7 separate regions of the Homo sapiens genome follow, and regions 1, 2, 3, 5, 6 and 7 are each linked to region 4. Evidence: fine-mapped expression QTL. A gene starts in region 4. Each other region holds a variant in brackets. All regions are shown on one strand. Distances are between the middles of the regions. Region 1 overlaps ADAM17 (ADAM metallopeptidase domain 17). Region 2 overlaps ASAP2 (ArfGAP with SH3 domain, ankyrin repeat and PH domain 2). Region 3 overlaps ASAP2 (ArfGAP with SH3 domain, ankyrin repeat and PH domain 2). Region 4 holds the start of ITGB1BP1 (integrin subunit beta 1 binding protein 1). Region 5 overlaps IAH1 (isoamyl acetate hydrolyzing esterase 1 (putative)). Region 6 overlaps ASAP2 (ArfGAP with SH3 domain, ankyrin repeat and PH domain 2). Region 7 overlaps LOC101929643 (a long non-coding RNA gene).

Region 1 (4,065 bases), 78 kb before region 4:
AAAGTGTTGGGATTACAGGCGTGAGCCACTGCTCCTGGCTGCCCAAAGAATCTTTTGGGCAACAGAGATAAGATTTAACAAGGGTATAAGATTTAACAAGGTTTTTTTATGGCTACATCCTAATAGCAAAATTTTGGAAACAATCAAAATGACAGTCTTGGGATATGAATGTTATCATGATTCTATATACTGGAATAGTGTGGAGGAAGTAGGTTACAAGTTAGAAAGTTACCCAGGTTTTCATTTTTTATATACACTGATAGACCAGTGCCTGGCTTAGAAGTAAAAGGGTTAAACTTCAGTTTTCTGGTGAATAATTGAGATTTAACTGGATACAGTGCATATTAACGCTGTAAATACTGATGGGGAGTAGAGTTCTGGCTGCCGAGTGTCTTAGCTATGGATTGCCTTGTGGCCCCACCTTGTCTTTTTTTTTTTTCCTTGTCTTTTTTTTTTTTTTTGAGAGAGTCTCGCCCTGTTGACCAGGCTGGAGTGCAGTGGCGCGATCTTGGCTCACCGCAACCTCTGCCTTCCAGGTTCAAGCTATTCTCCTGCCTTAGCCTCCCGAGTAGCTGGGATTACAGGCATGTAGCACCATGCCCGGCTAATTTTTTGTATCTTTAGTAGAGACGGAGTTTCACCATGTTGGCCAGGCTGGTCTCAAACCCCTAACCTCGTGGTCCACCTGCCTCATCTTTTTTTTTTTTTTTTTTTTTTTTGAGACAGAATTTCTCTCTTGTTGCCTAGGCTGGAGTGCAGTGGTGCGATCTCGGCTCACTGCAACCTCTGTCTCCGGGGTCCAGGCGATTCTCCTGCCTCAGCCTTCTAAGTAGCTGGGATTACAGGAGCGCACCACCACGCCCAGCTAATTTTTGTATTTTTAGTAGAGATGGGGTTTCACCATGTTGGCCAGGCTCATCTCGAACTCTCCTGACCTCAGGTGATCCACCCACCTCGGCCTCCCAAAGTGTTGGGTTGGGATTATAGGTGTGAGCCACCTCGCCCAGCCCATCTTGTCTTTTTTAAATTAATGCGTTAAATGAATGAAAACCAAGGGCACCAAGATGTTTCACAGGTGATTGCTGTGTTCCCATTCTTTTCTCCTATAGTGTGGCATTTATGTGACCTCACGCACATTAGGAAGGGACAAAGTGTGTGCAGGTAGCTCTAGCAGCGGAGATGTCTGATGATGTAGGAGTGGGTGACGGAGCCAGGAGGTCTTCCCCGGTGATCTTCAGGTCACTGTAACGTAACTGTAGCGTTTGATTTGATATGGGGCCATAATTTGAATTGCTCTGTTCCTGTCTGCTGTTCTTCTCCAGTGACAGGAACAGTCCTTGCTGTAAAAACTGTCAGTTTGAGACTGCCCAGAAGAAGTGCCAGGAGGCGATTAATGCTACTTGCAAAGGCGTGTCCTACTGCACAGGTTCGTGTTCTTGTTGCTTCCTTGGAATGCTGTGGGTCAAGTGTGTGTGTGTCTTTGAAAAACAAGATTATGTTTTGTTCAGATGAGAGACACCTTATTTTTAATCTCATATGCCGGGTTGAGTTTCTGGCACTCCTTAGTTTGTGACACTTGGCTTTGGTGGGTTTAAGACCTGTTTCTATTTCTCTTTCATTTCCATCACTCTCCTCTTTCTCCTCACAGACATCCACTCTACTGTGGTTAATATTTGCCTGGATATGTGTATATCCTTGAAAGATCATATAGTGTTATTTTGTGCATGTATGTGTTTTTAATGTGCCAAAATGATATTCTACCTTAAATTTACTTTTAAAAAATTCAGTATCATGTTTTAAAGAATTACCCATATTGTGCTACAGATAATATAACAAGGTTTTTAATGGCTACATCCTAATAGCAAAATTTTGGAAACAATCAAAATGACAATCTTGGGATAATGAATGTTATCATGAATCTATGCACTGGAATAGTGTGGAGGAAGCAGGATACAAGTTAGAAGGGTAACCAGTTTTTCTATATGTATCTATATGTATTTCACTGTTGGGGACACCTACATATTGTTTAGTTATATGATTGGCTGTGTTTTACTTACAAGTCACCAAGTGGTAGCTACTTCCATTGCCTTCATCCCCTTGATATTCCAGATAGGACACAGATCACATCCTCCTACGTCCCTTCAGGAACCTGTGTGTTTCTCTGGGTACTGAGGAGTGTCATTGTGTAGTCACAGAGGCAGGATGTGCTGGTCTCTAGAGCACCACTGCTAGGTTGCCTGTGTCTGAGGACTCCTTATCCTGA[C/T]GTTCTGGCCAACGCTTGGAATTACCCTGCTGTCCTATTAGCATGATGAGTATAAAGTAATCTCTTGTTCTTACTTTTTTTTTTAACAGCCCTTGTCCTAATGCACTTACTTACATTTTTCTTGAGCATCTCTTTATATTTTTCAGCTATTCAGATTTCTCCTGTGAATAGCCAGTTCATATATTTGGTTCATTTTTTAAAAATTGGGTTTCATGTTATTTCACTACTGTGAATTTGGAGGAGTTCTTATGTAATCATCCATTTGGGCATACGTCTCCTATCTGTTGCCATTCTCAGAACAGAAATCTTTAACGTAATCAAATCCATCATTTTGTTGTGTGTGTGTATTTTTTAAACACATGGTTCAGAAAAGCCATGGCGGATGGTTAAAAAGATATTTTCCACAGCTGCTTCTATTAGCTTCATAAGTTGTCCTTTTACATTCAGGACTTGAATCTTTCTGGAGCTAACCTTTCCAGGTGTCCAGTATCTTTTGTTCGGTCAATTGTTGCTTTAAAAATTTCAAAGCTATGTTATTACTAGGTATATAAACGGACATATCTCTACATCTTTATCTGCTGTTCCTTACCAGTATATAATGTTCCTTTTTTACCCTTGCGATGTTTTTTGACTTAAATTGTCAAAAAGCAATATTCAGTTTGCTATTCTAGTTTTTTTGTTCCTCTGATATATCTATCTGTCCCATTCTTATATTTTTCAAAATTTGTCTCTCTTGGTTGGTTGGTTTGATTTTGTAATAGCTTTATTGATACATAATTCACACTCATGTAGTTTGCCCATTTAAAGTGTACAGTTTAATGATTTTTAGTATATTCAGATTTATGCAGTCATCACAATTAATTTTAGAACATTTACATTACTCCAGAAAGAAACCCTGTATCCTTTAGCTATGATCCTCCAATCCCCCCATTCCCCACAACTCAGAGCAACCACTAACCACCCTATTCTTTATGGAGTTGTCTGTTTTGAACATTTCATATAAATGGAATTATACAATATGGTTTCGTGACCACATATTGTATGACTGGCTTCTTTCACTGAACATAGCATTTTTAAGGTTCATGTATGTTGTAGCATGTATCAGTACTTCATGTACTTTTATTGCTGGGTAAATTCCATTGCATGGATATGCCACATTTTGTTTATTCATTCATTGGTTGATAGACATTTGGGTTGCTTCCACTTTTTTGCTATAACAAATAATGCTGCTGTGAACATTTATCTATGAGTTTTTGTGTGGACAGTTCCTTTGGATATTATTCAGGAATAGAATTTCTGGGTCATGTGGTAACTATGCTTAATCTTTTGAGGAGCTGTCAGACTGTTTTCCAAAATGGCTACACCATTTTACAGTCTCAGCAGCATTGTATGAGGGTCCCAGCTTCTCCATATCCTCACCAACACTTGTTATCTTTTTTATTGTAACTATCCTAGGTTTTGTGATAAGGATGCAAACAGAAAGCTGGAGGTCTTCAGGGACCTAGTGAATGAAGTTGTGTCCTATTTTGGCTTGATTTTGGTTTTCCGTGTGCATAGTATGACATGTTGCCCATGTTTTTATCTTTTGGGATCTGTCACTATCACATTACTTTGCCAAATGTTAGGAACCTGATGGCCCGGCACAGTGGCTCACACCTGTAATCCTAGCACTTTGGGAGGCCGAGGTGGGCAGATCACGAGATCAGGAGATCGAGACCATCCTGGCTAACACGGTGAAACCCTGTGTCTACTAAAAGATACAAAAAATTAGCTGGGCGTGGTGGCGGGCGCCTGTAGTCCCA
Region 2 (4,065 bases), 24 kb after region 4:
CTTGTTTCAGGACCAGACTCAGGCCTGGGGCTCTGCGCTCTAGGTCAGCTCTCTCCAGACACCCGATTCCACTAATCCAGCAATGGGGGGTGATGACCTAGAAACTCAAGACCTCAAAATGAAGGAGTGTCATTTCAGGCCCTCATGAGTGCTGTGGAAACTGCACCCTAACAGGGGAGGAAGCCACCCTGGGGAATAATCAGGCCTGCTCAGAAGGGGGTGTCCATGGAGGAAGCAGCTCCTGAGGATGCTAAGGGGCGGAGGCACCAGGAACTACATCTGGACTGCTCAGGCTGAGAAAACCTCACCTGCAAGCCCGTCTCTCCAGCCAGGTGGGCAGGGACGTGGCTCAGCCCCCAGGAACCTCCCAGGCCCACCCTTGACTCACCCACCACTCCTGGTCCTCCTCCCCGTCCACGATGATCACATCCCCCTCGGAGAAGGTGAGCTCATCGGGGTTGTCAGCCACACAGTTATAGAGCGCTTTCACCCGCTTAGGCTTCAACTTGGTCTGGGTCAGGAGAGGGAACAACGGTTAGTGTGGCTGCAGGCCTCAGCTCTCAGGGCAGAGAGCTCAAGCACCCTGCCTTCCCCGGTCTCAGGAGTCCCGTACCTAGGCCTGAGAAGCCTGCAGATGCCAAGGTGGGGCAGGTCAGTGCAGCTCAGGAGCCAGGGAGAGAAAAGGGAAGAGCTCCCCACCAAGCAGAGAGAAGGGGCCAAGGGCTGGGAAACGAAGCGGCCGGGGCAGGGTACTCTGAGTGGGCCCATTGTGGAGCTGCGGCAGGAGGGCCAAACCCACCAGCTGCCCAGATCCAAGCAGTCAGGTACCAAGAAGAGCCCCGCCCTGCCCCAGCCAGGGGAAGAGGGGAAGACTTGCTTCCCCTGAGCCCTTGTGAAACCACCTGCACCCCCCTGGCTAGAGCAGAGAGGCAGGAAAGGGGGCTCGTCACTTACTGCCTGCGACTTCCTAGGCATGGGTGCAGGGGGCTGCAGGACCATAGCATTGGACAGAGGACCCAGAGCTTCCGTTGCAGAGAGATCCACTGTAGGGCAAAAATGAAGCAGCTTAAGACATCCCATCAATCACAGCCATGAGATGTAAACAATGTACAAGCCACAGGGTGTGTCTGAAAGCAGGTTTCCCCAGGTGTTCCGATCTGTTGAGGGGAAAGGGAACCTTCTGACTTGGATGCAGACCTTGGAGAGCTTGTGTGGCAGCGAGTGTCCCCCAGTGAGCCTGCCATGTCAGCAGGAGGGGACAGGTGAGGGGCCCCAGGACTGAGCTGCTCAGGAGCAGGGGTCTCAGAGGCCGAGGGAGGAGGGAGGATGGCAGGAGGGAGGAGGGAGGAGGAAGGCAGGGAGGAGGGTGAGAGGAGGGGAGGGGAAGGGAGGGGTGGAGGAAGGCAGGTGGCGGGGGAGGAAGGCATGAGATGGGGGAGGGAGGGGGAGAGGAGGAGAAGGGAGCAGAGGAAGGCAGGAGTGGGGGAGGAAGGAAGGAAGGAGGGAAGGAAGGAGAGGAAGAGGGCAGGAGGGGAAGGGGGCAGGAGGGGAGGGGGCAGGAGGGGAGGGGGCAGGAGGGGAGGGGGCAGGAGGGCTGTGGAATGGCAGACAGCTGGGCCCTCCCTCAGTCCTGACCACCTGGCAGGAAACATCCCCCACATTGCCCCCATGGACCAAGCAGAAACAAACTCAGTCCCAAATTAAATAATTACCAGGTCCTCTCGGTTGGCCTTTGTTGGTCAGTGGGGTGGACTTGTCAGCCCTACAAAGACAGGGAAAAAGTAGATTTACTGCTACCGGAGGGCACCTGCCCCTTTCTCATCCCCTTTTATCAGAGAACCTTCTGAGTTCAAGCTCAGAGTGTGTGAGGTGGTTTCCTCCACTGTCACTTAGCTGTCTCTTTTTTATGGGAAAAGGAAGAATGAGAGGCCCTGAGGAAAGTGCTAAATTCAACGTTTCTGATCCTAAAACCAGGGCTTTTCCAGAGCACTCTGTCCACGTGAGCCTGCCACCGATGGCCAGGGTCTGGAGTGATGCTGGGCACTGGCCACTGGCCCCGCCCCGAGTCTGCTCAGCCCCTTCCCTGCCTTGGTCCCATCACATGAAAGGGCAGGGCTGAACCTTAACCTCAGGCCCAGATGGCTTTGCCAGGACGGGTCCGAGCACTCTGGGTCAGCGCTGTCCATGCCTCTGCCGTCCCTGCTTCTGGGAACCAATGTGGCTGACCACGGGCTCAAGCCCCATCCATGA[A/G]CCTCTGGGCCAGCACACCCCAAAGCCACAAGGTAGAAACACATGAGTGAGGAAGTAGTTCTCAGGGCTGGCAGAGAGGGGTCCCTCATCTCGAACCTGCCACCTGGCAGCCCTGGATAAATGGGTTCTGGAGAGTCAGCATTTTCATCTGCAAAAGGTGTGACACAAGATCCGTCAACTCCAGAGCTAAGGACCAGTGCCAGTGGCTTCAGCTCCCCGGTGGATCTCCTGGACCTAGCATAAAGCCAGGCACAGGACGGGGGCTGGAGAAGCAGAAGAGGAAGACCAGGGAGGAAGGGAAGGGGAAGGCAAGGATGGGATTCTTTCCACTGTACGCTCCCGTCTGTCGACACTCCCTTCGCTGCTCGGAATGAACCCTGTCTGGCCTCAATGCTTGCAGTCCCAGAATGAAGGGAGAGAAAACATCACATGGGTTTTGCTCATACGCTGAAGGAACTGAAAAGGAACTTTGTTTTATTCCATAAAACAAAGACCCCTCCCATTTGACCAGTCTAGCCATTTGTTTTCCATCTGTGTCTCTGGGTGTAAATGTCTCTGCAGACATCACTACACTGACCTGGCTGACCCCCTGGCCGGCAGTCATCCCTAACTACAGAACACTCGCAGGGAAGGCCTGATCCTCTGAGACAGCAGTGAGCAGACTTTTTCTTTAAAGAGGCAGATAGTAAACTTTTTAGGCTTTGTGAATTTTTTTTTTTTTTTTTTGAGATGGAGTCTTGCACTGTCACCCGGGTTAGAGTGCAGTGGCACAATCTCGGCTCACTGCAACCTCTGCCACCCGGGTTCAAGCAATTCTCCTGCCTCAGCCTCCCGAGTAGCTGGAATTACAGGTGTGCACCACCACGCACAGCAAATTTTTTGTATTTTCAGTAGAGACGGGGTTTCACCATGTGGGCCAGGCTGGTCTCAAACTCCTGACCTCAGGTGATCTGCCCACCTCGGCCTCCCAAAGTGCTAGGATTACGGGTGTGAGCCACTGTGCCTGGCCTTTGTGTTTGTTTTTTGAGTCAGGGTCCTGCCCTATTACCCAAGCTCGAGTGCAGTGCGGCAATCAGTTCACCGCAGCCTCGGAACTCCTGGGGTCAAGTGATCCTCCCGCTTCAGCCTCCTGAGTAGTTGGGACTACAGGTGCACGCCACCATGCTTGGCTAACTTTCAAAATTTTTTGTAAAGACATGGTCTCACTATGTTTTCCAGCCTGGTCTCGAACTCCTAGTCTCAAGCAATCCTCCTGCCTCGGCCTCCCAAAGCTCTGGGATTATAGGTGTGAGCCACTGCACCCAGCTGGTTTTGTGGATTCTAGCATCTCTGTTTCAAGTATTCAACTCTGCCACTGTGGTGTGAAAGCAGCCCCAGACTACATAAAAAAACAGGTGTGGCTAATGTTCCAATAATATTTTCTGAGTGCTGAAGTGAATCTCACACAATTTTCATGTGCCACAAAATATCCTTTTGAGGCCGGGCGCAGTGGCTCACGCCTGTAATCCCAGCACTTTGGGAGGCCGAGGCGGGCGGATCATGAGGTCAGGAGATCGAGACCATCTTGGCTAACATGCTGAAACCTCATCTCTACTAAAAATACAAAAAATTAGCCGGGCGTGGTGGCGGGCGCCTGTAGTCCCAGCTACTCAGGAGGCTGAGGCAGGAGAATGGCGTGAACCCGGGAGGCGGAGCTTGCAATGAGCAGAGATCGAGCCACTGCACTCCAGCCTGGGCGACAGAGCGAGACTCCGTCTCAAAAAAAAAAAAAAAAAAAAAAAAAATATATATATATATATATATATATCCTTTTGA
Region 3 (4,065 bases), 150 kb after region 4:
TGGAGGTTCCTCAAAAAACTAAAAATAGAGCTATGATATGATCCAGCAATTCCACTGCTGTGTACATACCCAAAAGAAAGGAAATCAGTATACTAAAGAGGTACCTGCTCTCCCGTGTTTACTGCAGCACTGTTCACAATGGCCAAGATTTGGAAACAATCTAAGTGTCCACTAACAGAAGAATGAATAAAGAAAATGTGGTACCTATACACAATGGAGTACTATTCAGCCATAAAAAAGAATGAGATCCTGTCAGCTGCAATGATGTGGATGGAAATAGAGGTTATTATGTTAAGGGAAATAAGCCACGTACAGAAAGACAAACACTCCATGTTTTCAATTATTTGTGGGAGCTAAAAAAAAAAATTAAAACCACCCCAGTCACTGAGCCACTGCCGAGGACTCAGCAGCCTCCCCCTTGGGCCCCGTCGCTTCCCTACTTTCCGTACCCTCTGCCCGCCGTCTTCCGCAGACCATTTCCACCGAGAAAAAGAAATTGGATCGTATGTCCACTATCCAGAACCTCCACTATTTAAACTCCTTTGCTGATGCAAGTAAGGGTGATGACCTGCTTCCTGCTGGCACTGAGGATTATATCCATATAAGAATTCAACAGAGAAACGGCAGGAAGGCCCTTACTACTGTCCAAGGGATCGCTGATGATTACACCAAAAAGAAACCAGTGAAGGCGTTTAAGAAGTTTGCCTGCAATGGTACTGTAATTGAGCATCCAGAATATGGAGAAGTAATTCAGCTACAGGGTGACAGGTGCAAGAACATATATTATGCCAGTTCCTCGTAGAGCTTGGACTGGCTAAGGACGATCAGCTGAAGATTCATGGGGTTTAAATGCTTGTGGCTCACTGTAGTTTAAGTGAGGATTTCCTTGCAATGAGTAGAATTTCCCTTCTGTCCCTTGTCACAAGTTTAAAAACCTCACAGCTTGTATAATGTAACCATTTGGGGTCCGCTTTTAACTTGGACTAGTGTAACTCCTTCATGAAATAAACTGAAAAGAGCCATAAAAAAAAATGAAAACAGGGCCGGGCGCGGTGGCTCACGCCTGTAATCCCAGCACTTTGGGAGGCCGAGGCAGGTGGATCACGAGGTCACGAGATCGAGACTATCCTGGCTAACACGGTGAAACCCCGTCTCTACTAAAAATACAAAAAAATTAGCCGGGCGTAGTGGCGGGCACCTGTAGTCCCAGCTACTCGGGAGGCTGAGGCAGGAGAATGGCGTGAACCCGGGAGGCGGGGCTTGCAGTGAGCCGAGATCGCGCCACTGCACTCCAGCCTGGGCGACGGAGCGAGACTCCGTCTCAAAAAAAAAAAAAAAAAAAAAAAAATGAAAACAATTGAACTCATGGAGACTGACAGTAGAAGGATGGTTACCAGAGGCTGGGAAGGGTAGGTGGGGTGGAAGTGGGGATGGTAAATGGGTACAAAAATATAGGTGGACAGAATGAATAAGATCTAGTATTTGATAGAAACAGGGTGACAAAGGTCAACAATAATTTATTGTACATTTAAAAATAACTAAGAGAGTATAATTGAGATGTAACACAAAAGAAGGCTAAATGCTTTGAGGTGATGGAAGCCCCATTTACCCTAATGTGATTATTATGCACTGCATGCCTGTATCAAAATATCCCATGTACCCCATAAAAATATATACCACGTACCCACAATAATCAAAAATTTAAAAAAAAATACTGAAATCTTAGAGCAACAAAAAATAACAAAGCTTGAGTCTCGAGGAAGCAAAGATGTCTACCCATCAGGCTGAGAATTCTAACCAGACCCAGGCTCTCAACTACCATGCTCCCCAAACGAAAACTCCACTCCAGCTCAGAGCGGGGGAAAAGCAACTTTCACGGGAACTTATGTGTAAAAAACACAAACAAAGGCAAGAACCGAAGAGACCCCAAGACAGGAGCAGGGCCTGCACTGCAGCTGCCGCCTGGCCAGACCTCATTAATTCTCAGGGGCCAGGTGGAAGCTGACCTTCAGTTTGTCAAACAAGTTTTACAGAGTGAACTTATCACAAAAACCAGAGAGGGGGATGTGTCCCAAATATTTCTGAGGAAAACTACTGTTTCAAACCACTTTAAAAGCATCTGTTTGGAGTTCCCAAACTCTTCTATAGGTTCCTCTCAAGTTACCGAGGGGCCTCTTCCAATCTCTGCTGCTCAGCTGAGCTGGAGCCAGGACAGGGGACGGGGACAGTGTGTGGGGACAGTGGGGACGGTGCACACTGTGGGTAAGGGAAGTCCACCACAGGAGAGACCACCACAAAGCTGTTCACTCATTTTCCACACCTGTGCTGTCCAACAGGGTAGCCACAGAGGAATGTTTCTATAA[AG/G]ATTCATTCAAATTTCAAATTCAGTTCCTCAGGCCTTGCCACCTTCTGCAAGAGCTACAGCCACCCAGGCAGCACAGTGGCCTCTGAATGTCCCCAACCCCATGCTTCTCTTCCTCCGTTCATGGGCCCCACTGTACCGCCTGAGGGCGGTGCCACCACCTCTGGGGTCACCCGGAGGCCCTGGCCATGGTTCCCCCGTGGGCTCAGCATCAACATCACCCCATGGCCACCCTCCTCCATGTGGGGGCTCCTCTACCTCTTCTTGGTCCCCCACAGAACCCTACAGGGCCTCCATCCTGTGTCACCACAGGCTGAATGGTGCGGGCCAAGCCCACTATCTGAGGAGATGACCTGGCTCAGGGTGGGCACACACGGCCTGCGGGACAGCTTTTATCCAACCGTGAGCTAAGGGTGTTTCCAGACGAACATTTCCAATGAATGCAAGGACAGGGTCACAGGAAAGACCAACTGAACCCAAATTAATTAAGATAAATGTTATGCGCGCCCCCTCCCCCCCGCAAAATAATTCCTCTCTTCCCCTTAGGAGACCTGCATTACCAAAAAATTGTACTCCATTATTATTTTTATATTTTGAATTTCATTAATAAAAAATTTGTAGATATTTATCACCTCTCTTATGTAAGTACCTACATACCGCCTTGAGGCCCGCCAAACCTAAAATATTTACTATCTCTGGCCCCTCACAGAAAAGGTTTGCTGAGCCCTGGCCTCAAGGATCCATGCAAAATGCCCCTCCCACAGCACCAGCGGCCCCTGCACCCCACTCCTCCCAGCCCTGACAGGGAGCCCACACTGCAGGCAGCACAGCACCGGTTTGTCCCCAGCACCCTGAGTTCTCAATGCGAACCAGCAGGGGTGGGAAGAGGCTGGCTTCCTTCTTAGAACCCGAAGATGCTGCCCTGGGGAGAGCAGAGGCCTGCAGCACTCAGGCAGCCCTAGCATGCTCCGCTCTCCCGTCCTATCTCCTCTCCCCTCGTTCCACGGACGAAAGGCCAGCCTGAGAAGAAGGGACATTTCTGAAAGACAGTAGACAAAACAAAAAACAAAACACACCCAGGTCCGTGCCCCCAGGGTGGCTTTGCCAAGAAGAGTCAGACAGACATTCAGATGGCAGCTTTGTCTCACCACGCATTCGACTCTTCAGAAAGTAACAGAGAGCATTAATGACAGTGTCAAATATTTCCAGAAGCCTTTTGGGAAGCGTAGACTTGCACTGTGACCTGTGGGCTCCGTTTAAAGCCAGAGCAATAACGAACCTCCCCCCTTGTGGGAATAAAGCCAGGCCTGAAGAATAGCAGGTGTCGCTAAGAATTAAGATCAAATAGACGTCTGAGCTAAGTCACAGCTGAGGAAAGTGTGTGCCTAAGGACAGATGAGAAGGGCGTGTTTTGGTATTATCTTAAAAAATTAAAATTACTCAGAGTAAATATACATCCACAACAGAAGACATGGACAGGCTGTCCTAACACTCCTCAAAACAGCCCCCAACTGGATAAACCGAAATGTCGATGGTAAAATGAATAAACTGATGATGGACATTCGTACAACAGAATGCTACACAGCAACGGAAGAGAACAAACTTACCCCACAACACAAGTGAACTTGACAAAAATGTTGAGCAAAAGAATACATGCAGTATAAAAAGTTCAAAAACAGGCCAAACTAAATTGTTTATGTTTA
Region 4 (4,062 bases):
TTATACTCTTTAAATGAGTTGTATGGTATGTAAATTGTGAGTTGTATGGTATGTAAACTGTATCTCAATAAAGCTGTTACGAAACAACCAAATTCCCAAATTTACTCCAGAGTTGCCCCATCTCTTATACTCCTTGAGTGAATAACACTACCCTTTCCCAACTGCCAAACTTAGGAATCTGATCATAACATCCTCTCTGCCCTGCCTTCCCTCCCCACAACCACCCTTCCAGATACAGCTGATCAGCCACAAAATCCTGAAGATCTCATTTGCATACTCTCTCACACTCACATCACTCACTACAGGCTCTCGTCAGCTAGACTTAGAATCTTTCAATATCTCACTGAATCTGCTCTACTCAATCCATGCTTTTATTCATCCATGCTTTTATTCATCTGCTACACTGCTGCCAGGAGAGATTTTCCTAAAACATAATTCCCACAATATCCATGCTTGCTTAATAGCCTTCGCTGGCTCCCTGTAATTGACTTGATAAAGGTCCAAACTCCTGTGTATACGAGGTGCTTCCTAAACTGGACCTCAACTGCCTGTCGCTTCATCTGCTAACTCAACTCTTTAGCTACAGCCATGAGGAATCTGGCCACAAGCTGTGACCACTCTCACTTTCATATGTGCCACTTCCACTGCCTAGAACATCCTGGGCCCCCCAGTCTTTAACTCCTACTCATTCTTTAGGACTCAGCTCAGGCATCACATTTTTCAGGATCCACGAGGTATCCTTTTTTCCTCAATCTGTCAGAAATCCCTTTTCCATACTTTCACAGTGCTCAGTGCAATGCCTGCCTGCGTTCTTAGATTAGCTATTATTTACAAAGCACCTACCGCGATGTTCACTCTTCAAGTTTTATCTTATTTCCATATGAGAAAACGGGTTCAGTGAGATTGTTGTCCTACTAATTGGTCAAGTAGATAATGGACTTCAGGTCTGACTTCAAAGTAATAGTCTCCTATTATTCCAAAGTATCTCTCCAATATTTCCCACTGTGCACTGTAATTCTCTCCAAAAGAGCGAGAGCAATTAACTGGGCCCTCTGTTGCGTCTATATCCCCATGTGTGGTGCTTGACACTTGCTCAGTGTTTGCTCATCACAGGAAGACATGACAGGTGTGAACTAAGCAGAAGGAAACGGACTATGTCCCAAGCAGGTGCTCAATGAAGCCTTACTGAATGATTGTGTAAAGGAGATACTTTCTACCTTTTGGAAAGCGTATATTCATGTTGTGCCAACTAGTATCTAACAATAAACATGTTGTGGGTTCGAAATGCTCATCTGTAGGAATTCAAGTTCTCTACATTTGCATCTCCCCTTCAGCAGCATTCCCGACTGATGAGGATCGTGTCCACTGAAAGGCCACTCTCCTTATGGACAGTCGAGGGCTGAGTTTTTGTCCCTAACACCTCTGCACTTTCTCTTCTCCAGCTTTACACCTTCCTTATTCTACTAGGGCCTGAGCTGAGAAGATCGAAACTCACGGCAAGTCCCTAATATTTTCTAACTTCTGGCACATGTGAAGCCCTGGTGTTAAGAAACAGACTTAATTCTTCCCTGCACGGCTGTAGCCTCATTCAGGTCCTCCTCTCATCCTGTCGGTCATAAGCTTCACCGGCTCCCTCACAGCTTGCCCTGACGCGCAGAGATCCGTGCTTGTGCTAAGTGAAAACGCTTCTTAGCGTGTACGAAAGCGAGCGGTGGCCCCGTAAAACTTTTTTTTTTCCGACTCCAACATACCCTCCCCTGAAACTGATGAAAAAGCAAAATCCCGTTCACTCTATAGCAGGCCCCTTCCGATCAACGGTCCTCCAACCCCTCGAGCCTGAGAAGCCTGGCCCGCAAGCGCGGACCAAAGGCAGGCTGCCGGGGTAGGTGGGAGCGCGGGCGACGGAGGAGGCCAGTCTCCGGTTACCCCTCGCGCCCCTCACAGCCCGTGGCTTCATTCCCTCTCTCGCTGGTCCCTTACAGGGGTCGGATCAGCAGCTGGTCGCTCTCCTCAGCAGGAATCGCAGACATCCCGAAAGTGTGAGGGCGAAGCGGGGGTGAGGAACAGGTCGCCGGGGTCTTCCTAAATTGGAAGCACAGCCACCGGTAAATAAAAAAGGAAGAACCCCATTCACCAAGAGCACAACTTCCGTCACTCCGGAGCCCGCGGCACTAGACTCCTCCCCTCGACTTCCGGTCGGGGGACGCCGCTCGCGAGGCTTCCCACCACTTGGGGTCTTGGAACCGGGGGTAGGACGTCAGGACTGCGCCTGCGCATAGTCTTGGAGGCGCGGCCCGGCGGACGTGGGCAGGAGGGCTGGAAAAGCCGGCGCTGGAGCGGGAACGGGAGTAGCTGCCTGGGCGCCAAAGGCCGCGGCACTCCCACGCGGACCCCGAAGTCCGCAACCCGGGGATGGGCCCGCGGCTGCGAGGTGAGCGCCCAGCCCTCGTCCCGCTTGGGGCCGAGCTCGCGGAGGCCTGACGGGAACACGGTCCCGAGAGCGGCGCGGACGGCCAGGAAGGATGGGTGGGGCCGCGGGGCGGGCGGAGGAGGGATGCCTGGGCTCGGGCTTGGTTCCGGGCGGGGCCGCGCTCCCGGGGCGCGGGTGGAGGAGCTTGGAACCACGCAGATCGGGCGTGGGCTTGCGGACTGCAGCTTCCCGAGCCGCTGTCGCCCCGGAGGGGCGGCAAGGCGGGCGGCCGCGGGCCGTTTCCTTGCCTCTTCCTCTGCCCCGCTTCGGCCGCCTCCCGCCTCTCAGGGTCGGGGTTGTCTGTCCCCTTCGCTGTCACATCCTCCGCACCCAGCGCTTGGAAGGTGCTCCATCACGGTGACAGACAGGTGCCAAGCAGGCTGGCGTCTGGGAGGAACTTCGGAGCCGGCTCTCCCTAGGCCCCGAGCTTGGCCGCATCCGTCCTTACTCTGGTGACCCTGGGCAGGTCACTGACTCTTCGGGCGCTTTGGCATCCTCGTTTGAAAGGGGCTGTTATCCTGCAGCCTTGCTGGTCGGTGAGGGTGAGGGTGAGAGGGATCTGTGCACCTAGCACCGTGCATGGCACGTGGTAGGCGTTTGGTACATGGGAATCGCTGTTGGGGTGTCACCTCCCCAGAAAGTTCTCGGCTTCAGTAAGCGCGTCCCCTGCCAGGCGCCCTGGCAATGCAGAGGAGTCACCGAGCTCCGCCTTTGACCAGCGTGCAGCTGGGAGAGTGAGATCAGAGACCACAGCAGATCGTGGCGCTGTGATCAGGGGGTACACTCAAGCTGTGGGTCCCTTACCCCAGCCTTGAGATCCCAGGAAGGCCTGCAGCCTGAAACGGGCCTTGAAAGGTAAGAAGTAGCCAAGTGCCTGACAGGTGAAGGACGTCCCGGGCGGTGCAAAGCAGGGGCGCGTGGAGCATCGCGCTGAGAACCAGGAGCAGCTTTGCCTTGCTGAGATCAATGAACTGTGCCCGGGTTGTGGAGGATGGAAGTGGAAAGGTGATTAGGAGCTGGGTCCTGGAGGACCTGGCGTGTCGTGCTGAAGAACGTTGACTTTGGTCTCTGACTTTGGAGAACCAGTGAAAGATTTTCAGCAGGCTAGTGGCATTAGATTCATGTTTGAAAGAAATCATTTTAATCGTTTTGGCTGCAGTGTGGGGGTAGATTTAAAGTGTTAGGGAATCCAGTAGGACAAGGTCCCTTATCCACGAAATATCCTTGGGTTTGTGAATTCCTTAAATTCATGCCAAACTTTGTATGGATGTGCATTTTTATAGGGTGAGGATCCATCACATTCATCAGTTTCTAAAAAAATAGTGTCTGTGCCCATGGTTTAGGATGACGGGGGCCCTGGTGGAGAGCTGGCTCAGAGAGCTCTTCAGGTGGGGTATACAGTGGGTCTTGGTGCCAGATTGGATGTGGGGCCTGAAGGACAGCAAGGAAATCATGATTTTCTGGCTTCCTCCAGCAATAATAGAATCTCCTGACAGGGAGAGGAGAGGAGAGGAGCAGATCTGGAGGGGAGGATGATGGGTTCAGCTTGAGACATCTTTGCATTTGATGAGCCTGCGGAGCATCCAATCGCC
Region 5 (4,065 bases), 62 kb before region 4:
TGGGGCCGAGGATTACTGGAAGACAGGAGTTTGAGACCCTGTCTCTACAAAAAATTTTAAAAATACAAAAATTAGCTGGGTGTGGTGGCAAACACCTGTATTCCCACCTACTTGGGAGGCGAAGATGGGAGGATCACTTAAGCCCAGGAGTTGGAGGCTACAGTGAGGTATCATTGCACCACTGAGTTCCAGCCTGGGTGATAGACTGTCTCCCCCCACAGCGCGCGCGCGCGCGCGCACACACACACACACACACACACACACACACACACACACACACACAAAAAGGCCGGGGAGGGAGGGTATAACTTTTCTAAATGCCAGTGTGTACCATTCTCTCATTTGTGGCCCTGCGACAGAAATATCACCAGCCCCTTTCATTGTAGGCATCTGACCAGAGGTGTCTTGGACTACAGTAGCACTGATGTGCTATTTACGTAGGTGTTTGAACACACAGAGAACCCTGACTAGTGCTATAGTGCTGTCTCCATATTATAGAATTGAGTTTCATGAAAGTCACTCACCATTAAGTGAGCTGGGACCTCATTCCAGGTCTTCTGAATCATATGACATGATTCTCAGGTTATTTGAAAGAACCTTAACAGGTAAATATGGCCTATTAACGTAATCAGCAAAAATGAAAAATTTGGTATTAGGAGTGTTCAGGGGCCCCATGAGTCAATATTGTTTTTGACTCTAGGCAGGTTTTTAGGCAGAAAGAACTTCTACCATCTAACCTAGAACAGTAATTGCTGGGACACAGGAGTCCAGTCTCCCTCCCATTGCCCTGAACTCAAGAGTACATATTTAAAAAGATACACATATTTTTGGAGACAGGGTCTTGCTTTGCTGCCCAGGCTGGAGTGCAGTGACATGATCATGGCTCACTGCAGCCTCAACCTCCTGGGCTCAAGCGATCTTTCTAACCTCAGCCCCCTGAGCAGCTGGGACTACAGGCACGTGCCACCATACCTGGCTACCTGGCTAATTTTTGTGCTTTTTGTAGAGATGGGTCTCTCATTATGTTGCCCAGGCTGGTTTTGAACTCCTAGGCTCAAGCAATACTCCCACCTTGGCCTCACAAAGTATTGGGATCACAGGCATGAGCAGCCATACCAGGCCCTGAACTATAAGAATTTTACCCATACAGCCATTTCTTTCTTGGGGAAGAATCTCACTAGCCAAGAGCTCTGTTAGAATCTGGGTGGCCAACTAGCTTATGTGACTTTTTTTTTTTTTTTTGAGCTAGAGTCTCACTCTTGTTGCCCAGGCTAGAGAACGATGGCACAGTCTCGGCCTAATTCAACCTCTGCCTCCCGGGTTCAGGTGATTCTCCTGCCTCAGCCTCCCAAGTAGCTGGGATTACAGGTGACTGCCACCACGCCTGGCTAATTTTTGTATTTTTAAGTAGAGATGGGGTTTCAACATGTTGGCCAGGCTGGTCTCGAACTCCTGACCTCAGGTGATCCACCTGCCTCAGCCTCCCGAAATGTTGGGATGATAGGCATGAGCCACCGCGCCCGGCCTTATGTGACTTTTAATAGACCAGAAATTTAGATGCTATCATATAATAGTAGCACTTCTTCTTCGGCCTTGGTTTTCTCATCTAGGCAGTTTGAGATGAGATGATCTCTAAGGACGACCCTCTCAGTTTTGTATTAAATTGAAAAAGACATGTGAGCAAAACTAGCCCAATAGTTTGCAGTTTCCTTTCCTAGACAACAGAACTCTAGATGTCGACCCTTTTGGCACTCAAGCTGCCAAGGCCCCTCCTAATCTGGAATTCTGGAAGGTTCCAGTACTCCAGGGTTTCAGAGGAAGACTAGAGGCCTAGGGTCCAGATCTGCTTAGGCTCTCAGGGCCTCCAAAGGTGACTGGTGACTCGGCATCCACGTGGTAGTATGACTTTCCCACTGGTGACCATTTTCCCTATTACAGATGGATAATAAATGTGTAGGTCATTGGAACGATTGGTATGGATTAATATTTAGGGGAGAGGAAAAAGTTGGCACTTGGGTTAGTTTCTTGGCTGTTTTCTATGTTGCTTTGTCCAAGTAGCCTAAACCTAACAGCTAGGAATAGAGGAAACCGGTGAGGCTGTGAGTCTTCCCGTTTGTCCAAAGAGCTTCCCGCACACTGGATCCTTCC[T/CT]TCCCTTGAGTACTTCAAATATCATCAGTCCCGTCCAAGCTTTCTCTCTGGATCCCAGCATAGCAATGAAGTAGCCTTTAATGTGCCCTACTGAACAAGCTCTTTACAAAAGAGTAGCACAAGGTCACAGAAAAATTAAAAAAGACCAGTGCCTGTCTGCCCCTCTTCACCAGTATCTGTGTGGAACCTGAATTTAGCCATACCTTTCCTTGCCCTAACCTCTGGCCACCATGGACCTGTTCTGTTACTGCAGTCTTGCCTTTTTTTGGGGGGTGGGCTGGGGAGGGTGAGACAGTCTCCCTGTATCCTCCAGACCGGAGTGCAGTGGTGTGACCTCTGCCTCCCGGGTTCAAGCGATTCTCACACCTCAGCCTCCTGGGTAGCTGGGATTACAGGCGCGCTCCACCATGCCCAGCTAATTTTTGTATTTTTAGTAGAGACAGGGTTTCGCCATGTTGGCCAGGCTGGTCTTGAACTCCTGAACTCAGGTGATCCACCTGCCTTGGCCTCCCAAAGTGATGGGATTACAGGTGTGAGCCACCACACCCAGCCCAAGTCTTGCCTTTTTGAGACACCAAAACAGATGGACTCATGTAGTAAGTAGCCTTCAGAGACCAGCTTCCTTCCCTCAGTGAAGCGCCTCGAGAGTCACCCACGTTGCTGCGCTTGTCAGTTCCTCCTCTTTATTGCCGAGTAGTATCCCATTCCACGGACACACCAGTTTCCCTATTCATCACAGAAGGACACTGGCGTGTTTCCAGCAGGTAGGAATAATGCTGCTGTCAACAGTTACACCCAGGTTCTGTGTGAACATAGTTTTCATTTCTCTAGGGCAGATAACCCAGGAGTGGACTGCCAGGTCCTCCCTAAGTGTATGTGTGACTGCGTCAGAAACCAGCTGTCTCCTGAGTCAGTGCACCATTCCATGGGACCTGCTTTTTACCTTTTATATTTGTGCTTTCAGGCTTTAAAACAAAGTAACTTAATTAGAACTACATATCTCAAACAGTTTTATTAGCCAATACTGTATTTAAATTCATTGTTTTACCTATTAACAAGTTTTAGCTTTCTGCCATTCTCTGTATGAAAGAAGAACTTGGCCTGGACGTTCATAAATATGAGCCATGTGTTGCTCATTGATGTCACTGCGCACTAACTCCTAGCCAAGGAGCCTGGCTGAATTAAGCTGCTGGGCTTGTGAGCCATCCTGGAACCTCCATTCCTCCCCTCCCCCAAGCCTGTTTGTTTTCATTGGCTAAAGGGATGACTGTCTTAGCTAAGCAGGGCCTTTCTAGGGAAAGCTGCTGCACACACACCTGGTTTACTTCTGTGTGATCCTATTTACCCCGAGAGGACCGAGCAAGCCACCGTACCTGGCTGTCCTGCATCAGGGTCCACAGGTCAAGTACGTCAGTCCCACAGTCTTGGGCCACTTGTAAACACGCATTGGCATATTCACCAACAACAGAGTTCAGGCGATTTAGTTTGCAACCTATTGAAGAGAAGAAATAGAGGTGGCAGTTGGTAAACCCAAGTGCTGGCCCTTGTGTAAGTTCTGCTCCACTCATCTAGACAGTTTCAAAATGCCATTAAATATTGACCCCACTTGGGCCAGCCCCGGGGTTTAGGGTATATGTTGATGAGCCTTGCAGGTTACTGGTGTGCTGCTCTACCCAGCAGAGGACAAGGTGCAGTGGGAAGAAGGAGCCTTCAGTGGTAACCGGAATCTTCTGAGGCGCCAGGGAGGATGTTCTAGAGGACACCTTGAACAGAGGCAGAGAGGCAGGAAAGGCCCAGGAGGGCTGGGCTGCTTGGAGAGTGCCGGCTGCAGGAGCTGGGCTGGGGGCTGGTAAGGGCTGCACTAGTAGGAAATGCCAGGCCATGGAAGCTGAACGCTGCGCTGACACCGCTGGCTTC
Region 6 (4,065 bases), 120 kb after region 4:
ACCCCACTATTACAACCCCCTCCACCAATATCTGTACCCCACTATTACAGCCCCTCACCAGTATCTATACCCCACTATTACGGCCCCTCCACCAATATCTATACCTCACTACACTAGCCCCTCCACCAATATCTTTACCCCACTACTCCAGCTTGTCCACCAATATCTATACCCCACTATTACAACCCCCTCCGCCAATATCTATACCTCACTACTCCAGCCTCTCCACTAACATCTACACCCCACTACTCCAGCCTGTCCACCAATATCTATACCCCACTATTACAACCTCCTCCACCAATATCTACACCCCACTCGTCCAGCCCCTCCACCAATATCTATACCTCACTACTCCAGCCCCTCCACCAATATCTATACCCCACTATTACAACCCCCTCCACCAATACCTATACCCCACTAGTCCAGCCCCTCCACCAATATCTATACCCCACTATTACACCCCCTCCACCAATATCTATACCTCAATACTACAACCCCTCCACCAATATCTATACTCCACTACTCCAGCCTCTCCACCAATATCTATACTCCCAAGACTACAGCCTCTCCACCCTGTATCTACACCCCCACAACTGCAGCCCTCCCACCTATGTACATCCCCCTACAGCCCTCCCACCTGTATCTACACCCCCCCTACAGCCCCTCCACCGCATATCTACACCCCCTACAGCCCTTCCACCCCCTATCTACATCCCCACTAGAGCCATTCCACACAGTACCTTGTAGATTTGGCAAACAATTTTTTTCTAAGTTTGAGGTCACCTACATCGTGGCAGTTGTCCCTTTAATAGCCAGCAATTAAGAAAACACACAATGACAAAAACAAAAACAAACCCTGTTTTAGGTTCATTAATACTTTCAAACAGAAACAGCATGTCCTACACACATTTGACAATTGTGAAGAAACTGATTTCTAAACCTTGCAAGCAGGCTTGTGTGCAGATGGACAAGTGCCATACTGCAGTGCCCCTCCACCCTCAGGGATCCAGGGAAGCAGGGACCCAGGGCTCAGGGCGGGGAGTCACTGCTCCCTGCTTCCAATGCTGTACCCTCAGGGCTCCGCAGGCTGCCAGTGGCTGTCCCGGCACATGTCTTCTAATAAAAGCATCTGTGTCCCCTGCCCAGGCAGGAGTTGCCAGAGGTCACCGCCCCATACAGCACCAGCGCATGGATAGCACCCAGCAGGTGCCCAGTCCTCGTCTCTGTGAGTTCTCCCTCCCACGCCCAAGGCCTCACCATGCTATCTTTGCCCAATATGGCTTCTCCCACTTTCTCTGTATGGGGGTTACCGTATCACAGCATTCCCTCCCAACCCCAAAAAGAAACAGTATCCAAGTCCAATGGAAATCTATTATGTGGCTATGCCACAACCAAAATGTAGATATCTGACACCAGCCTTATTTGTTCATTGTCTCGATCAAACAATGTGCTTTTGTTTTTGGTTAGAGATTTGTGAGTATAGAACATAGCTTAGCGTTGAAGTCTTTTGGGTCTTAGATAAGGAATTTCCAACTATAAATGAGGCCATGCCAAAATCTAAATGGCAGAGGTTTCTAGGGGCCCAAAGCGACTGTCAGCAAGTCCATCAAGGTACTCTCTCTCCCCTCCTCACTCAAAGCCCTAGCCCTCAAGCCCTCCTCAAGCGAAGCCTATGGACTCCTAATTTGCACCCAAGTCTAACAAGCCAAGTCACCTTGCTCTTCAGCTCGCAGCATCGTGAAACAGAGACCTTAGAGGCACCCAAGCACTGACAGCAGGAAAAAGGGCAACCAATAGAAAAAGTGTCAGAATATTAAAAAGCAAATGTCAGAAACGGACACCTAATAATAGTCCAGGACTAATCCAAGGGCGGATATTCCCACGTACCCCAAGCCACTGGGGATGTCTCTAGATTTCAGCATAGTTCATTAGTTTATGTCTAAAACAGTGACTTAAATCTTCCTCCCAAAAAGATGATACTATGATCATTGCTCTTGTTTAATTAAAAAACAAAGTAAGACATTTAAGAATCTAAGACATTTGCAATACAAGAAGTTAGGAGAAAGTCTATGGAAGTACTGAGGGTGAGGACCTCTGGTAGCAAGATGTCTATATTGAGTGACGAGACAAGCCTTACTAATATGGACAATCAGCTCACACTTAACCTAAGCCTGACAGCACTGGGCAGAGTCCTGCTGTACTAGTACCAATGCAGCCAAGCCAGGATGCCCCTCTGCCAGGTGCAGCACATATGAGAAAGCCACAAACTACTGCTTGTCCCAACAGAACCTTACTACCTCCCTAGTAAGGTTAGCTATAA[T/C]GTCTTCTGACCAGGCGTGGTGGCTCACACCTGTAATCCCAGTACTTTGGTATTACAGGTGGTGGCTCACACCTGTAATCCCAGTACTTTGGGAGACCCAGGCGGGTGGATCACTTGAGGTCAGGAGTTCGAGACCAGCCTGGCCAACATGGAGAAACCCCGTCTGTACTAAAAATACAAAACTTAGCTGGGTGTGGTGGCTCGCGCCTATAATCCCAGCTACTTGGGAGGCTGAGGCACAAGAATAGCTGGAACCCGGGAGGCGGAGGCTGCAGTGAGCCAAGATCGTGCCACTGCACTCTAGCTTGGGCGACACAGTGAGACTCTGTTTCAAACAAACAAACAAAAAAAGTTGGCCAGGCATGGTGGCTCATGCCTGCAATCCTAGCACTTTGGGAGGCCGAGGTGGGCAGATCACGAGGTCAGGAATTCAAGACCAGCCTGGCCAATACAGTCAAACTCCGTCTCTGCTAAAAATATAAAAATTAGCTGGGCATGGTGGCACGTGCCTGTAGTCCCAGCTACTCGGGAGGCTGAGGCAGAAGGATCGCTTGAACGCGAGAGGCAGAGGCTGCAGTGAGCCAAGACTGCACCACTGCGCTCCAGCCTGGGCGACAGAGCGAGACTCCGTCTCAAAAAAAAAAAAAAAAAAAAAGGCTTCTAACTCACATCATCTGTGTTTGGGAAAAAAAAAAAAAAAAAGGCCGGGCGCGGTGGCTCACGCCTGTAATCCCTGCACTTTGGGAGGCCAAGGCGGGTGGATCACGAGGTCAGGAGATCGAGACCATCCTGGCTAACGTGGTGAAACCCCATCTCTACTAAAAATACCAAAAACTAGCCGGGCATGGCGGTGGGCACCTGTAGTCCCAGCTACATGTGAGGCTGAGGCAGGAGAATGGCATGAACCTGGGAGGCAGAGCTTGCAGAGAGCTGAGATTGTGCCACTGCACTCCAGCCTGGACAACAGAACGAGACTCCGTCTCAAAAAAAAAAAAAAAAAAAAAGATGATGGATACACACGTTGCTTGGTAGAGCTTTCCATTTCCTCTATCAACATGGGTGAGGGAAAACTCCTTAGCCCAGGGTCACCTCAGATCTCATGCTGCAACTCTGTCCTCTCCTCAGCACCCATTGGCTCCTGCTTTCAATGGATGCTGATCTTCATGTGGAGCGGGTTCTGCAGACCGTGAGGACATCTTTCACTAACAATCCTCTAACACTGGAGACAGAGACTACATATCTGTAACAAACCTTTCAGAAACCTGCCCTGAAATGCAGCCTTTCATTAGAAAGCCACTTCTCAGCACAGAGGTGGCCCTTGGAGTCTTTCCAGGATTCTCACATCCATTGGGGAAGAGGAAAAGAACCCCTGAAACTAGGCTGACTTCATAAGCACTTTAATTTCACACATGTCACATTTCTGGAGCCGTCTGGTTTTCCCTTTCATCCTGCATCACCGCAGAGAAAATTCACAGACTTCTGCAGGTGAGAATCTCACCCATTAGTAAGAAAATCTTGCTTTATATTAAGCTGGCATTTCTCTGGAGATCTTCCAACTGCTTTATAAACATTCTTTCACGCCTCCAAGCAGGTAGGTGGTAATTGTTATTCTTTCTGGACAAGAGGTAGCACTGTGAGTCTTAGCCAGACAGAACTGAAATGTTTTAAATGCCCGAGGGAAAGCAAAAGCAAGGCTTGGAAGATATGAGATAAGCCAGATGTGACCAAAAACAGGAAGAAGAATG
Region 7 (4,065 bases), 140 kb before region 4:
TAAGCTCTTTTTCTGCTTAGCGTGAATTGGTTCCTTTTGTGCATGACTAGAAGGCCTTAAGTGATAAAGGGTTTGGAAGATTTGGCTTGCCCTTGACTTCTGAATTTTCAGCCAAGAATTCCTTCCTGCTGTCCAGATAGCAGAATGAGCAGCTTCCCTAAAGTGAAGGAAAGCCTATTGCTAACATATTCCATCCTAAGCGAAGAAACTTCCTGATTGCTTGGGGGGAGATATTACTTCTAATGTAATAATGGGTACTAATGATTTTCTTCTGAGTCCTTTATAGGTTAAAATCAGATGAAGAGAGCTTATATACCCAAATTAAGCTGCGCCACCCCCCTACTTTCTGGGGTTTTTTGTTTTGTTTTGTTTTCTTTGTTTTTGGGTATTTTTTTTTTTTTTTTGAGACTGAGTCTCACTCTGTCACCCAGGCTGGAGTGCAGTGGCATGATCTCGGCTCACTGCAACCTTTGCCTCCCAGGTTCAAGCGATTCTCATGCCTCAGCCTCCCGAGTACCTGGGATTACAGGCACCTGCCACCATGCCCGGCTTATTTTTTGTATTTTTAGTAGAGATGGGGTTTCATGATGTTGTCCAGGCTGGTCTCAAACTCCTGACCTCAAGTGATCTGCCCACTTTGGCCTCCCAAAGTGCTGGGATTACAGGCGTGAGCCACCGTGCCGGGCCAGGGTTTTTTGTTTGTTTTGAGGCAGGGTACAGCTCTGTCACCCAGGTTGGAGTGCAGTGGTTCACAGCTCACTGCAACCTCCACCTGCTGAGCTAAAGTGATCCTCCCACCTCAGCCTCCCGAGTAGCTGGAACTACAGGCTCACACCATCACACCTGGCTAATTTTTGTGTTTTTTATAGAGATGAGGTTTTGCCATGTTGCCCAGGCTGGTCTCAAATTCTTGAGCCCAAGCGATCCATCCACCTTGGCCTCCCGAAATGCTGGGATTACAGGCATAAGCCACCATGACTGGCCTCATCCACCTACTTTCTTAAAGGCAAATATCCCTCTACCTCACAAAGAGTTAAGAGCTCTCATCTGTGTAGGAAAGCATTGTGCCCTCTCATGTCTCCCAAAATAGATGTCTAATTTCTTTGAATTTTGCCTTAAATGCTCAACTTGAATGCCTCGTTATTGAGACACTGGAGGTGGCAATTAGTGAATGACTAGCCTTCCAGCTGCTCCTTTTGAGTATATTGTGCTGGGTGGATGATCCTGTTACCAGCAAATGTTGGATTGCAAACTCATCTGTCAGGTGGCAATCAAAAACTAGCCTGGAGGCCTGGGCACAATAGCTTACACCTGTAATCCCAGCACTTTGGAATGCCAAGACAGGAGGATCGCTTGATCTCAGGGGTTCAAGACCAGCCTAGGCAACATAGTAAGACCCCTGTATCTACAAAATATAGAAAACAGCCAGGCCTAGTGGCATGCGCCTGTAGTCCCAGCTACTCAGGTGGTGGGGGGATCACTTAAGCCGGGGAGTTCCAGGCTACAGTGAGCTGTGATCATACTATTGCACTCCAGTTTGGGTGACAGAGCAAGACAGTTTCTTTTAAAAAAAAAAACAAAAAAAAACTAGCCTGGGCTGGGCATAGTGGCTCATATCTGTAATCTCAGCAATTTGGGAGGCCAAGGTGAGAGGATCACTTGAGGCCAGGAGTTTGAGACCAGCCTGGTCAACATGGCAAGACCCTGTCTCTACCAAAAAAAGAAGTAAAATAAAAATACTAACCTGCCTCTGACAGGGCCTGCCTGAAGAGATGCCACTGTTTAGGCAGTTGAGCCCTGGACTGGAAACCAGAAGGTCTGGGCTGTCATTCCTGCCCCTAACTTGCAGTGTGCTTTGGGAAAATCCCTGAGTCTCTTTTTCTGTAAACTCCAGGAAGACATAGGGTTCTACTAGACGGTTCAGGAGTGCTTCAAACCCAATAGCTCTGTAGACTCCAGGAAGACATAGGGTTCTACTAGACGGTTCAGGAGTGCTTCAAACCCAATAGCTCTGTAGACTCCAGGAAGACATAGGGTTCCATGAGAGGGTTCAGGAGTGCTTCAAACCCAATAGCTCTGTTTTCATCCATTTTATACAATACGATCCTGCAAAAGATTTATTTTGCAGATAGGGTACTATAGCTAAAAGAAAAAAACCCCAAAACACAAGAGCTTGAAAACATCATCGGACTAGATGGCAACCACATTCCTCTGTATATTTCAAATTCGCATCTATGTTATTAACTGAAGTTTTTATTTTTATTATAATTTTTTTTGAGATGGGTTCTTGCTATGTTGCCCAGGCTAATCTTGAACTCCTGGGCTCAAGCAATCCTTCTGCCTCAGCCTCCCTAAGTGCTGGGATTACAGGTGTGAGCCACTGTGCCCAGCCTAACTGAAGTTTTTATTTTTTATTTTT[ATTTTTT/T]GAGACACAGTTTCGCTCTGTTGCCCAGGCTGGGGTGCAGTGGTGCGATCTCAGCTCACTGCAAGCTCCGCCTCCTGGGTTCACGCCATTCTCCTGCCTCAGCCTCCCCGAGTAACTGGGACTGCAAGTGCCTGCTACCACGCCTGGCTAATTTTTTTGTATTTTTAGTAGAGACAGGGTTTCACTGTGTTAGCCAGGATGGTCTTGATCTCCTGACCTCGTGATCTGCCCACCTCGGCCTCCCAAAGTGCTGGGATTACAGGTGTGAGCTACCGCGCCCGGCCCTGAAGTTTTTAATGGATGTATGCTTTCAAATTATTTATTGAACAAAGCAGAATGTAAATAATCAATATATAACTAGATAGATATGATGAGCAAACATTGCAGGCTGCCCATGATACCAATAATGAGCCAACGTTGTGATTCTGCACTAACTTACTTGTCTTTCAGAGTAAGCCAATAAATAAATGGTAATGTTCCCCCAACGTAACCTCTTTATATTCTGGTTCTTCAAGGTGATCAGTCCTTTGGAAGCAAAGCACAGAACTGCGTAGTGACCACACATATCAGAATTAGGGAACTTCTGACTCACACCTGTAATCCCAGCACTTTGGGAGGCTGAGGCCAGAGGACTGCTTGAGCCCAGGAGTTCAAGACCAGTCTGCGCAACATGGCAAAACCTCATGGTGGCATGTGCCTGTAGTCCCTGCTACTCTGTGGGCTGAGGTGGGAGGATCGCTTGAGCGCAGGAGGTCGAGGCTGCAGTAAACCATGTTCATACCACTGCATTCCAGCCTGGGCAACAAAGTGAGACCCTGTCTCAGAAAACAAAACAAAACAGAATTAGAGGACTTCTAAGCTCTATATTAAGCAGAGAGGCACACTGGCTGGGCAGTTCTTACTCGTTTTGCATACATAATCTGAACAGTATGGAAGCAAGAGTGCTTTTTTCTGTAGTCCAGGTTTTAAGATGTTTTCATAAGCAGATCTCATTGATCAGGATCCTAGAGCCTGCCCTCTGGGCTCCCAGTCGGAGTGCCACTGTTAGCTTGTAGCCTGTAAACTCTGGGGACATTTTTCACAATAGCTGCAATGTGAATGCCACCGTCCTCAAGGCAGGGGGTCTAGAGTAGCAGGTTAGCAGGTTCTTTTTTTTTTTTTTTTTTTTGAGATAGGGTTGCATTCTGTCACCCAGGATGGAGTGCAGTGGCACGATCTCAGCTCACTGCAGCCTCGACCTCTCAGGCTCAAGTGATCCTCCTGCCTCAGCCTCCTGAGTAGCTGTGACCACAGGCATCCACCACCACGCCCAGATTTTTGTAGATAAAAAATCTACAAAAATTTTTTTATTTTTTGTAGAGACAGGGTCTCACTATGTCTGGTCTTGAACTCCTGGGGTTAAGTGACCCTCCTGCCTCGGCCTCTCAAAGTACTGGGATTATAGTCATGAGCCACTGTGTCCAGCCCAGATTCTTTTTTTTTCTTTCTTTTTTTTTTTGAGACGGAGTCTTGGTCTGTCTGTTGTCCAGGCTGGAGTGCAGTGGTGCAATCTTGGTTCACTGCAACTTTTGCCTCCCGGGTTCAAGCGATTCTCCTGCCTCAGCCTCCCGAGCAGCTGGGGTTACAGGCACATGACACCA

What was found.
Region 1: its variant is fine-mapped to the expression of ITGB1BP1 in whole blood (TOPMed, PIP above 0.99). The same link has a PIP of 0.9 or more in cerebellar hemisphere.
Region 2: its variant is fine-mapped to the expression of ITGB1BP1 in whole blood (TOPMed, PIP above 0.99).
Region 3: its variant is fine-mapped to the expression of ITGB1BP1 in whole blood (TOPMed, PIP above 0.99).
Region 5: its variant is fine-mapped to the expression of ITGB1BP1 in whole blood (TOPMed, PIP above 0.99).
Region 6: its variant is fine-mapped to the expression of ITGB1BP1 in whole blood (TOPMed, PIP above 0.99).
Region 7: its variant is fine-mapped to the expression of ITGB1BP1 in whole blood (INTERVAL, PIP above 0.99).

The regions. Positions count from the first base shown.
Region 1 is chr2:9,499,534-9,503,598 of GRCh38, reverse strand. ADAM17 (ADAM metallopeptidase domain 17) reads left to right here. Exons shown (of 19, transcript NM_003183.6): 13 at 1,323-1,426. It also overlaps a transcript of IAH1 not described here. Among named protein-coding and RNA genes, the nearest start is that of IAH1, 27 kb to the right of the region's middle. The variant C/T (reference allele first, on the strand shown) is at 2,264.
Region 2 is chr2:9,397,720-9,401,784 of GRCh38, reverse strand. ASAP2 (ArfGAP with SH3 domain, ankyrin repeat and PH domain 2) reads right to left here. Exons shown (of 28, transcript NM_003887.3): 25 at 1,713-1,762; 26 at 955-1,043; 27 at 389-511. Among named protein-coding and RNA genes, the nearest start is that of ITGB1BP1, 24 kb to the left of the region's middle. RefSeq lists an enhancer at 678-1,241. The variant A/G (reference allele first, on the strand shown) is at 2,251.
Region 3 is chr2:9,268,069-9,272,133 of GRCh38, reverse strand. All of the region lies in intron 1 of ASAP2 (ArfGAP with SH3 domain, ankyrin repeat and PH domain 2), which reads right to left. It also overlaps the pseudogene EIF1P7. Among named protein-coding and RNA genes, the nearest start is that of ASAP2, 63 kb to the right of the region's middle. The variant AG/G (reference allele first, on the strand shown) is at 2,364.
Region 4 is chr2:9,421,742-9,425,803 of GRCh38, reverse strand. ITGB1BP1 (integrin subunit beta 1 binding protein 1) reads left to right here and starts at 2,276. Exons shown (of 7, transcript NM_004763.5): 1 at 2,276-2,431. It overlaps CPSF3 (cleavage and polyadenylation specific factor 3), which reads right to left and starts at 2,150. Exons shown (of 18, transcript NM_016207.4): 1 at 1,981-2,150. The coding sequence starts at 2,030. RefSeq lists enhancers at 1,914-1,963, 2,004-2,053, 2,924-2,973, 2,967-3,825 and a silencer at 2,484-2,783.
Region 5 is chr2:9,484,007-9,488,071 of GRCh38, reverse strand. IAH1 (isoamyl acetate hydrolyzing esterase 1 (putative)) reads right to left here. Exons shown (of 6, transcript NM_001039613.3): 5 at 3,522-3,640. Among named protein-coding and RNA genes, the nearest start is that of IAH1, 11 kb to the right of the region's middle. The variant T/CT (reference allele first, on the strand shown) is at 2,149.
Region 6 is chr2:9,301,080-9,305,144 of GRCh38, reverse strand. All of the region lies in intron 3 of ASAP2 (ArfGAP with SH3 domain, ankyrin repeat and PH domain 2), which reads right to left. Among named protein-coding and RNA genes, the nearest start is that of ASAP2, 96 kb to the right of the region's middle. The variant T/C (reference allele first, on the strand shown) is at 2,321.
Region 7 is chr2:9,566,406-9,570,470 of GRCh38, reverse strand. LOC101929643 (a long non-coding RNA gene) reads right to left here. Exons shown (of 3, transcript XR_922777.3): 2 at 1,745-2,106. Among named protein-coding and RNA genes, the nearest start is that of ADAM17, 13 kb to the right of the region's middle. The variant ATTTTTT/T (reference allele first, on the strand shown) is at 2,420.